2 linked regions of the Homo sapiens genome follow. The protein of the gene in region 1 purifies or fractionates together with the protein of each later gene. This does not show direct contact. Each region holds a gene or a part of one and is shown on either strand. Other genes may lie near its edges.

Region 1 (4,541 bases):
TGCCTATATAGAATATAATACACAAAACCATTTAGCAGGTGCATGCAAGAGGCGAAAGGCCAGGGGATGCAGAGGCTTCTGGTCGGCCCTGAAGTGTGGGGCCCAACATGCCCTGGGGTCTGCAGACGAACTCGGACCAGGAGCTCTAGTCTGCCGCTGCCTCAGCGTGGGGGCACGGCTGAGGCTGGGAGGACCCTTAGCCTCGATCACTGGTGGCCCTGGTGGAGCCCGGGCTGCAGGGGCCCCGGGGTTGGCAGCGGCGGCTGCAGAGGAGGCAGCGTCATCGGCGGCTGCTGCGGTAGCGGGGGCGGCGGTTCAGTGCCTGGTTCGCCAGCTGGCGTGCGGGCCAGCCCCAGGCTGCTGTCGTGCAGCTTGCGGACATGCTTCTTGAGGTCAAAGTTCCTGCAGAAACCCTTGCCGCACGTGGGGCAGGTGAAAGGCTTCTTGTCGTTGTGGGTGTGCATGTGGAAGGTGAGGTTGTAAACCTGGTGGAAAGCCTTGTTGCAGATATTGCACTTGAACTGCTTCTCCCCGCTGTGGGTCAACTTGTGGTTTTTGTAATTCCCTGAAACACACAAATGACAGGAATATGGTTCTGAAAAAAAAAATAGCTTAAAAAGGGAGGAGCAGACACGTGGAAGGTAGCGCCAGGCAAGCAGAAGAGCCGCCACAGGTCCCACAACAAGTGCAGGGCTACTATCTGTGCCTGCACTTGTCTCCCCAAGTTTATTTTCAAGCATCGCATCAACAGTGATGCCGTTTCCTTAAATTTTAATACACATTTATCAGTCCAATTACATACAATGAGAGCATGCAGTTAAAACATATACCCTTGTTTTATGAATCATGCTTTTCTCTAATACTAATCAGACTTCGAGTAGGGAGTTAGAATGGCAACAAAAGTGCCACATAACTACACTTTAAACATCGTCTTCTAAAACATCCCGAAAGTATTAAGTATGGCTTTTCATAAGACTAACCATGAGAGACATTTCCTGGTTTGCATACCTTTTTGATGAAACCCTTTGCCACAGAATTCACACACAAACGGTTTGTAGCCCGCGTGTATTCGGGTATGAGTGTTTAAAGTGGAACTTCTATTAAATGCTTTGCCACACTGGTTACATTTGTGAGGTTTTTCCTAAGCAGGAGAAAGGAAAAGCAGAGACATTTAGATATTTTCTAATTATGTGAAGTTCTGCAAGCTCAAAACACAGTAATGCTTAAACACTTTCAAGCAGAACAAAAGCAAACAATACATGGCATTCACCCTGTTTAGCTAGCACTTTTTAAATGAACGTTATCCTAAAGAGTAAGGTTTTATCGGCTGTTTTTCTGCAAACAGTTCGGAAGCAAACTAGGTGAAATTGAGACAGATGAACACACCTGCGTGTGAATGATCTTGTGCCTGCACAGGGTGCTTGCTTGCCTGAAACCTTTTCCGCACACTTTGCAAACGAAGGGTCTGGCTCCTGTGTGCACTGGCATGTGACGGGTTAAGTTATAGTGCGCATTAAAGACCTTAAAATTAAACACACGTAGAACAGGTTAGCCGCACAAGTAACTTTGAAATCAAACCGGGCAGAGAGAGGGTAGGAGGAAGAGAATCTTAACAAAAAGTGTATGCAAATAATTACCCCCAAAATACTAAAAAGGGAGGAAGGAAAGGAGGAGCGAGGGAGGGAAGGAAGGAAGGAAGGAAGGAAGGAAGGAAGGAAGGAAGGAAGGAAGGAAGGAAGGAAGGAAGGAGGGAGGGAAGGAAGGAGGGAAGGAGGGAGGGAGGGAGGGAAGGAAGGAAGGAAGGAAGGGAGGGAAGGAAAGGATCTCCGTTTTGCATTGTACTTGCCTTTCCACACACTTCGCAAGTGAAAACTTTGGGCTTGGCATTAGGAGAGCCTCGGCTGAAATCCGAGGTTTTGAACGCGATTTTTTCCGACAGAAGCTGGGCGCTTTCTTTCATGTAATGCTGCAGCTGAGCCTGGGACAGGTCTTTGAAAGCTACTCCAGAAGGGTATTTCTCCACCGCCGGGACCACCAGTTTATTCCTTTCGGCTAAATACGTTTTTGGCTGCGGGTGCAAAGGGGAACTGAGGAAGTAGGAGGCCACCGGGTGGATGTTCACGCCGGCTGCCGGGTGGCATGGGCCGTCACCTCGGTTCAGGTAGCACAAGGCGCCCATGGCGTGGAATGAAGAGTGGTTGACCACACGCGGCCTTACCAGCTTGTACTGCTGCAGCGGCAGCGCGTCGCGGGCCAGGTCGCCCTTGAGACTCAGTGCGCAGTTGAGCAGGTCGCTGCAGCTGAATGCGGGAGCCGAGGGCACCGCCGCGGGCGCCGCCGGGGCCTCCAGACTGGCCTTCCGCGGCTCGGAGCCCGTCACTCCTGCCTTGGGGCTCGTGTCGTAGGCCACAGGCACGAAGGGGATCATGCAGGGGATCGACGAGTTGAGATGCAGAGAGTGCTTGGGTTCCCCCTTGGGTAAGGCTCCCTGCAGGAAGTGGGGGACTGGCAGGGCCTTGGGCTCTGGGGTGCGCGCCATGATTCGTTCAATGGAGAAAGCCAAGGGTTTGGACGTGCTCATCATGTTGCCCCGAGCTGGAGCAGTCGCTAACATTTTGGTAGTCGCGTTGTGGCAGCTACTGTCCATGTCTGAGTCGCCAGCGTCCGTCAGCCGGGGCTGGGTTGCGCCGTCCGTTGCCTTGTTCCCTGCTTGTCACAGACCTGCGGAGAGGGGGACGGGCACCATCACCACCAGTAGCCTCCTCCTCCTCCTCCTCCCCAGCATCACCAGCCGAACCTGCCTGCCCAGCCCAATGGACTCCTGCCAGCCCATCGCAGAGTTCTTGGCGCACCAATGACTCGGGGACAATCACTACTTATTTCTATCAATAGAAAGTGTTGTGTCAATAACGCAGCCAAGATCTCGCCAATCGTTAACTTCCAAGAGGAGAAGGTAAACTAGATAATTGCTCAATTCGCTTCCAACAGTCAACAGGAAAACTTTTTTTTTTTTCATCTGCAGTCAGTAACTACTTTTCATTGGTGAGTGAGGTTCCCCGCCCAGAAAAGGCGGGGGCGCTTTCACCCGCTTGGCGCGCCCTCCCCTCTGCGCACACACTCTGCCGCGCACACTTCACTACCCTCCGCACCCCCCCATCCCCACCCCCCTTTTGCTTCCTCTGCCTTTCTAATTCTCAATCTGCTTAACCAGGCTTTAGAGGCCAAGCAAATCTGAGATCAATTTTCTCGTTTAGCTCTAAGTGACATCATCTAAAATCATTGTGCAAGGGCTAAATAAGGAAACGGAGTCTAATTCAGGGGCAAACGCCAGGCTATATTTATCAAACGCCAAGCTCCAGAAAGCCTCGGCTAGGAAGCCTCGGCAGTGAAATCCGAGGTTTCGCTGCTTGGTTCCACTGGGCCTGGGTGGGCCGGGCTGGGCCGGGCTGGGCCGGGTCAGATCTGTGCCACCTCCGCAGACCTATTTCTTCCTCCAGGGCTCGGGGTTGCCCGCTCCCGGAATCCCGGAGTCTCCGCGGCCCGAACCGAGTCTGGACCATTTAGAAGACGCCGGCAGGTAACTGGCCTCCCCAAACGCCCCGAAAATTAAAAGCCTTAGGAGGCTTGTTCTGTGTTTGTGGTTTTGTAAAGGCAATGCCCGCGGCAATAGGCCTGGGAAAGTCGCACTTTCATCCACAAAGTTGAGGAGTTGCAAGGAATAATTGGGTGTCACACCACAAGCAACCTTGACTCGATCGGACCCCACCCAGGATACACACAGACGCGCGCGCGCGCACGCTTCCGAGTTTCCATTGAGAGTCTGGAAAGAGCATTTCTTTCTTAAGTACCTGCGCTCAGCTAGAGCTCTCCCGGAGCATTTTAAATACTGAATGCCGAGCGGAGAAGGGAAACAGAGTGTATTAATCCCCACTCCGGTTGCCGGTGTCTGCAAGCCTCCTCTAAGCAGCGCAGGCGGCAGCCTGGATGTCTGTGCGCATCAAGGAGACTTGCCGGCGCCAGAGTTGTGTCCACAGGTGCACTTGTGCCTCCCAAAGAGCGCGCGTAGAGACCATTTCCCCTGCAACGCCCCCCAGCCGAACACCCGCCGGGTGTGGCACCTCGGCCGAAACTCCTGGGGCGGCGCGGTGGAGCGTGTGGAGGTTTCCGGGAAGACGCCTACGGCTGCGGCTCCGACTGTGCGGGCTCCCGCCGCCCAGGCAAGAGCGTCCAGGAGCGCGCTGGAAGCTGCGGCGCGCACCTTCCCCGGCGCAGTCTCTTGCCAGCCGGCGATCACGCAGAGCTGAACCCCGCAGCTAGGCGCGCAGGAAGGGCTGCACAGAGTTTGAAGACACGGCAGCTGTAAGCTGGCGTGAGGAGGCCAAAGGAGCGCGCAGAGCTGCAAGCAAAGGGCGGTGGGGCCTGGACCCTGAAGTGAGTGGCCGACCGCAGCAGCTCAAGGTGCCATCTGCCTGGTGAGTTAACCCCACGTGGCTGTGAGACAGGTGGTGGCGGGTGTCAGGTATTGGGCCAAGTGTAGTGGG
Region 2 (2,994 bases), on another chromosome or scaffold:
GCTTTGCCAGCAGAGGTGCTCATGCCATTGGCTTGCCTGCCTAGCTGATGTCCCCAGGACAGAAGCCTCCTGACTGACCTGGTGAGGTGTCGCCAAGGGTGGATCCGATCCACCTCTGCCATTTTAAGAAAGTGCCACGTGGTGGCTCATGCCTGTAATCTCAGGCATAATTTGGGAGGCCAAGGCAAGAGGATCTCTTGAGCCCAGGAGTTCGAGACCAGCCTGGGCAACTTAGTGAGACCCTCTCTCTACAAAAAAAGTTTGAAAATTAGGTGTGATTGGACACATCAGTGTCGTAGTCCCAGCATCTCAGGAGACTGAGGTGGAAGGATTGCTTGAGCTCAGAAGGTCGAGGCTACAGTGAGCCATGGTCACACCACTGCACTGCAGCCTGAGTGACTGAGGGAGACCCTGTCTTATTAAAAAAAAAAAAAAAAAAAAAAAAAAAAAAAAGCAGCAGTACTGTCCATGACCACCTTTCACCTTTCCTTGACTGGGCTTTCTGTTTGGTCAAGGAGCACATTACATTTGCATTTGCTCTAAGTCCTCCATACTCATGGGATTTTCTTTCAGTATTTAACATTTTTGATTATATGTTTCTTTCCTAGTCCAAAGAATCCTCATCGGTGCTTAGCTGTGACATCTCCGTGGACGACAAATACATTGTCACTGGCTCTGGGGATAAGAAGGCCACAGTTTATGAAGTTATTTATTAAAGACAAATCTTCATGCAGACTGGACTTCTCCTCCTGGTAGCACTTTGCTCTGTCATCCTTTTTGTTCACCCCCATCCCCGCATCTAAAACCAAGGATTTCAGATACTCATTGCAGTTGTGGAGTTTAATCCCCTTTCTTAACCTCACTTCCCACTTGCTATTGAATTGTGAATAGTCATTAAAAACCTGTGATACCAAATCTTCAGCTGTCTACTTGGAAGAACATGGAATAAGCATACTTAACAGTGAAAAGAATCTTTAATTATGTATTATATCTGTAATATATTTATTTTGTTTAAAGAAGGCTTTCTAACAATGACTGACTAAATAAAGCTGTCTGCTCCTGCATTGATAATGAAGGTGCGTTGTATTTGATACCCCTCCCCCCCTTTTTTTGGCAAAGGAGGGGAAAGGAAGGTTTAAAATAATTGATTTAAAATGTCACTAAGTGTAGACTGATGACTGTATAGAGATGTGAAATGTATAATTACACATGGAAGCAATATGTTGCTGTGTTGTTATTAGGTTTTTTTTGTTTTTGTTTTCTACATCTTTTAAAGACTTTTGGAAATTTGGCTGAACAATTAGAACACAACAGGCCAACTCATACTCATTTGGATCTATTTAGACAACGTTAACCAATATATCTATAGCTTTAGATTATATTCGATAAAAGTAATTGGACTTTTTTTCTTTTTTTGACTCGTTGACAAGTGTCTTTGTAATATGTTTTTAGTTCCCTTTTTTTGTTGTATTATAGGCAGATGAACAAATTAAATTTGGCCTCAAAGAGAGAACTTACTCCCTTCTGGATATTTTTGCCACATTTCTTTGCAAAAGGAGATATATATATCTTTAGTCAGTTTTGTTGTTATGAGAAATTATGGGTTATTTTGTGGCATGCTCTTTGGGAGCTGCACAGTTATGGGGAGGACTCCCACTGCTGTGCAAGTTAAGTCTTTTACAAAACAAGGACAGCAGAGGAGGGTTTGCAGAGACCTCCCTCTGAAAAACACAAAGAATGGACTCTCTCCTGGGATGAGGACTTGCTTTCTTTACCTCCGGTTCTTTCCATGTCTTAGTTGGATGTCCCTGAAATGGACACAGGCTGTGCCATTGTGCCAGAAACATTGTGTTATCTTTTATGTTGTTGTTGTTGCTGTTAAACTATAATATGTGACTTCTTTTTTTATTATTTTTTGTTTGAATGCTTTAAAAATCTTTTAAGTCTGTGGATCTGCTGATGTACAGTGCCTTTGCTGCTATGGATCAAAATCAAAAGAACCGTGTAGATATACTTTATTGTATAAGTAGAAAATTACTTAATTTCATACTAGAAATGGATGGATGCTGCAAGTTGAAATGGACTGTCCATTGACGTTCCTAATGTGGTAGCAGAAAAAAAAAAATGGTGTCTTAAGTGCTTAGTGTTTGATGTCATTAACAGTTTCGTAAAACTCTACAGTGTAGAAAGATTTTGATACTAAACTGTGCGTTGTACATAGTTCTAATGCATTGTATTGACCACCAGTACTTCTATAATGGTAGATTGTTTGTGAATTCAGACTTTTAAGCATTAAACATAAATAACTTCTAGTATGCTTATTTTTCTAATTCTTTGTCTTGATGACATTAGTTTATTTTTTATCTTTGGCTGTGCCACTCCTATATATTAAAAATGCCTAGTTTTTTCAAGGGAGATTGTTGTTAAAGTAAAGTGGTTTTTTTTGTTGTTAAAGTAATGTGGGTTTTTTTCACTGTTGCTGTTTTTGTTTTGGTTTTGTCTTTACTTGAGAGGAGCTAGAAAAGGTAGGTGATAGAAGTTAACAGTGACCAGTTGGTGCTAAATATTTATTGAGTACCTCTTTGATTTATAAAAATACTGCTTACCAAAAGGTTATCATGTCCCTCAAACCCTTGATGCTTTAGAGCTATGCTGTTCAATATGGTTACCCTAGGCATTTGTGGCTCTTTAAATTTATTAAAGTTAAATAAAACTAGAAATCTAATTTACCAGTCACACAAACTACATTTCAAGTGTCAAGTAGCCACATGTGGCTAATGGCTACCGTATTGGACTAGACACATCAACACGGGCTTTAAGTTAGCCAATGTAAACCATTGCCAGCCATGTGGATTTGGGAAGCATTTCTAGCATAACACACTGAGGTCTTTACACCAGGCTTCTTGGGCTGCTACTGGTTGGGTGTATGAAGATTCAGTATAAAGAGGAGTTTAAATTAAGAATTCTAAAGTGCTGGGACTCAAAAATCCGACA

Evidence for each region. Proteins that work in one complex are often made in the same cells at the same time.
Region 2: the proteins of FEZF1 (region 1) and TLE4 purify together in Homo sapiens (affinity purification with mass spectrometry; one large-scale study listed by BioGRID and IntAct). This does not show direct contact.

What each region holds. Positions count from the first base shown.
Region 1 is NC_000007.14:122,301,791-122,306,331, forward strand, and holds the start of FEZF1 (fez family zinc finger protein 1), read right to left. Parts: upstream 2,961-4,541; 5' UTR 2,648-2,960; coding exon 1,847-2,647; intron 1,522-1,846; coding exon 1,387-1,521; intron 1,142-1,386; coding exon 1,009-1,141; intron 566-1,008; coding exon 207-565; 3' UTR 1-206. UniProt on the Homo sapiens protein: Transcription repressor. Involved in the axonal projection and proper termination of olfactory sensory neurons (OSN). Plays a role in rostro-caudal patterning of the diencephalon and in prethalamic formation.
Region 2 is NC_000009.12:79,724,429-79,727,422, forward strand, and holds the end of TLE4 (transducin-like enhancer protein 4), read left to right. Parts: intron 1-608; coding exon 609-716; 3' UTR 717-2,454; downstream 2,455-2,994. UniProt on the Homo sapiens protein: Transcriptional corepressor that binds to a number of transcription factors. Inhibits the transcriptional activation mediated by PAX5, and by CTNNB1 and TCF family members in Wnt signaling.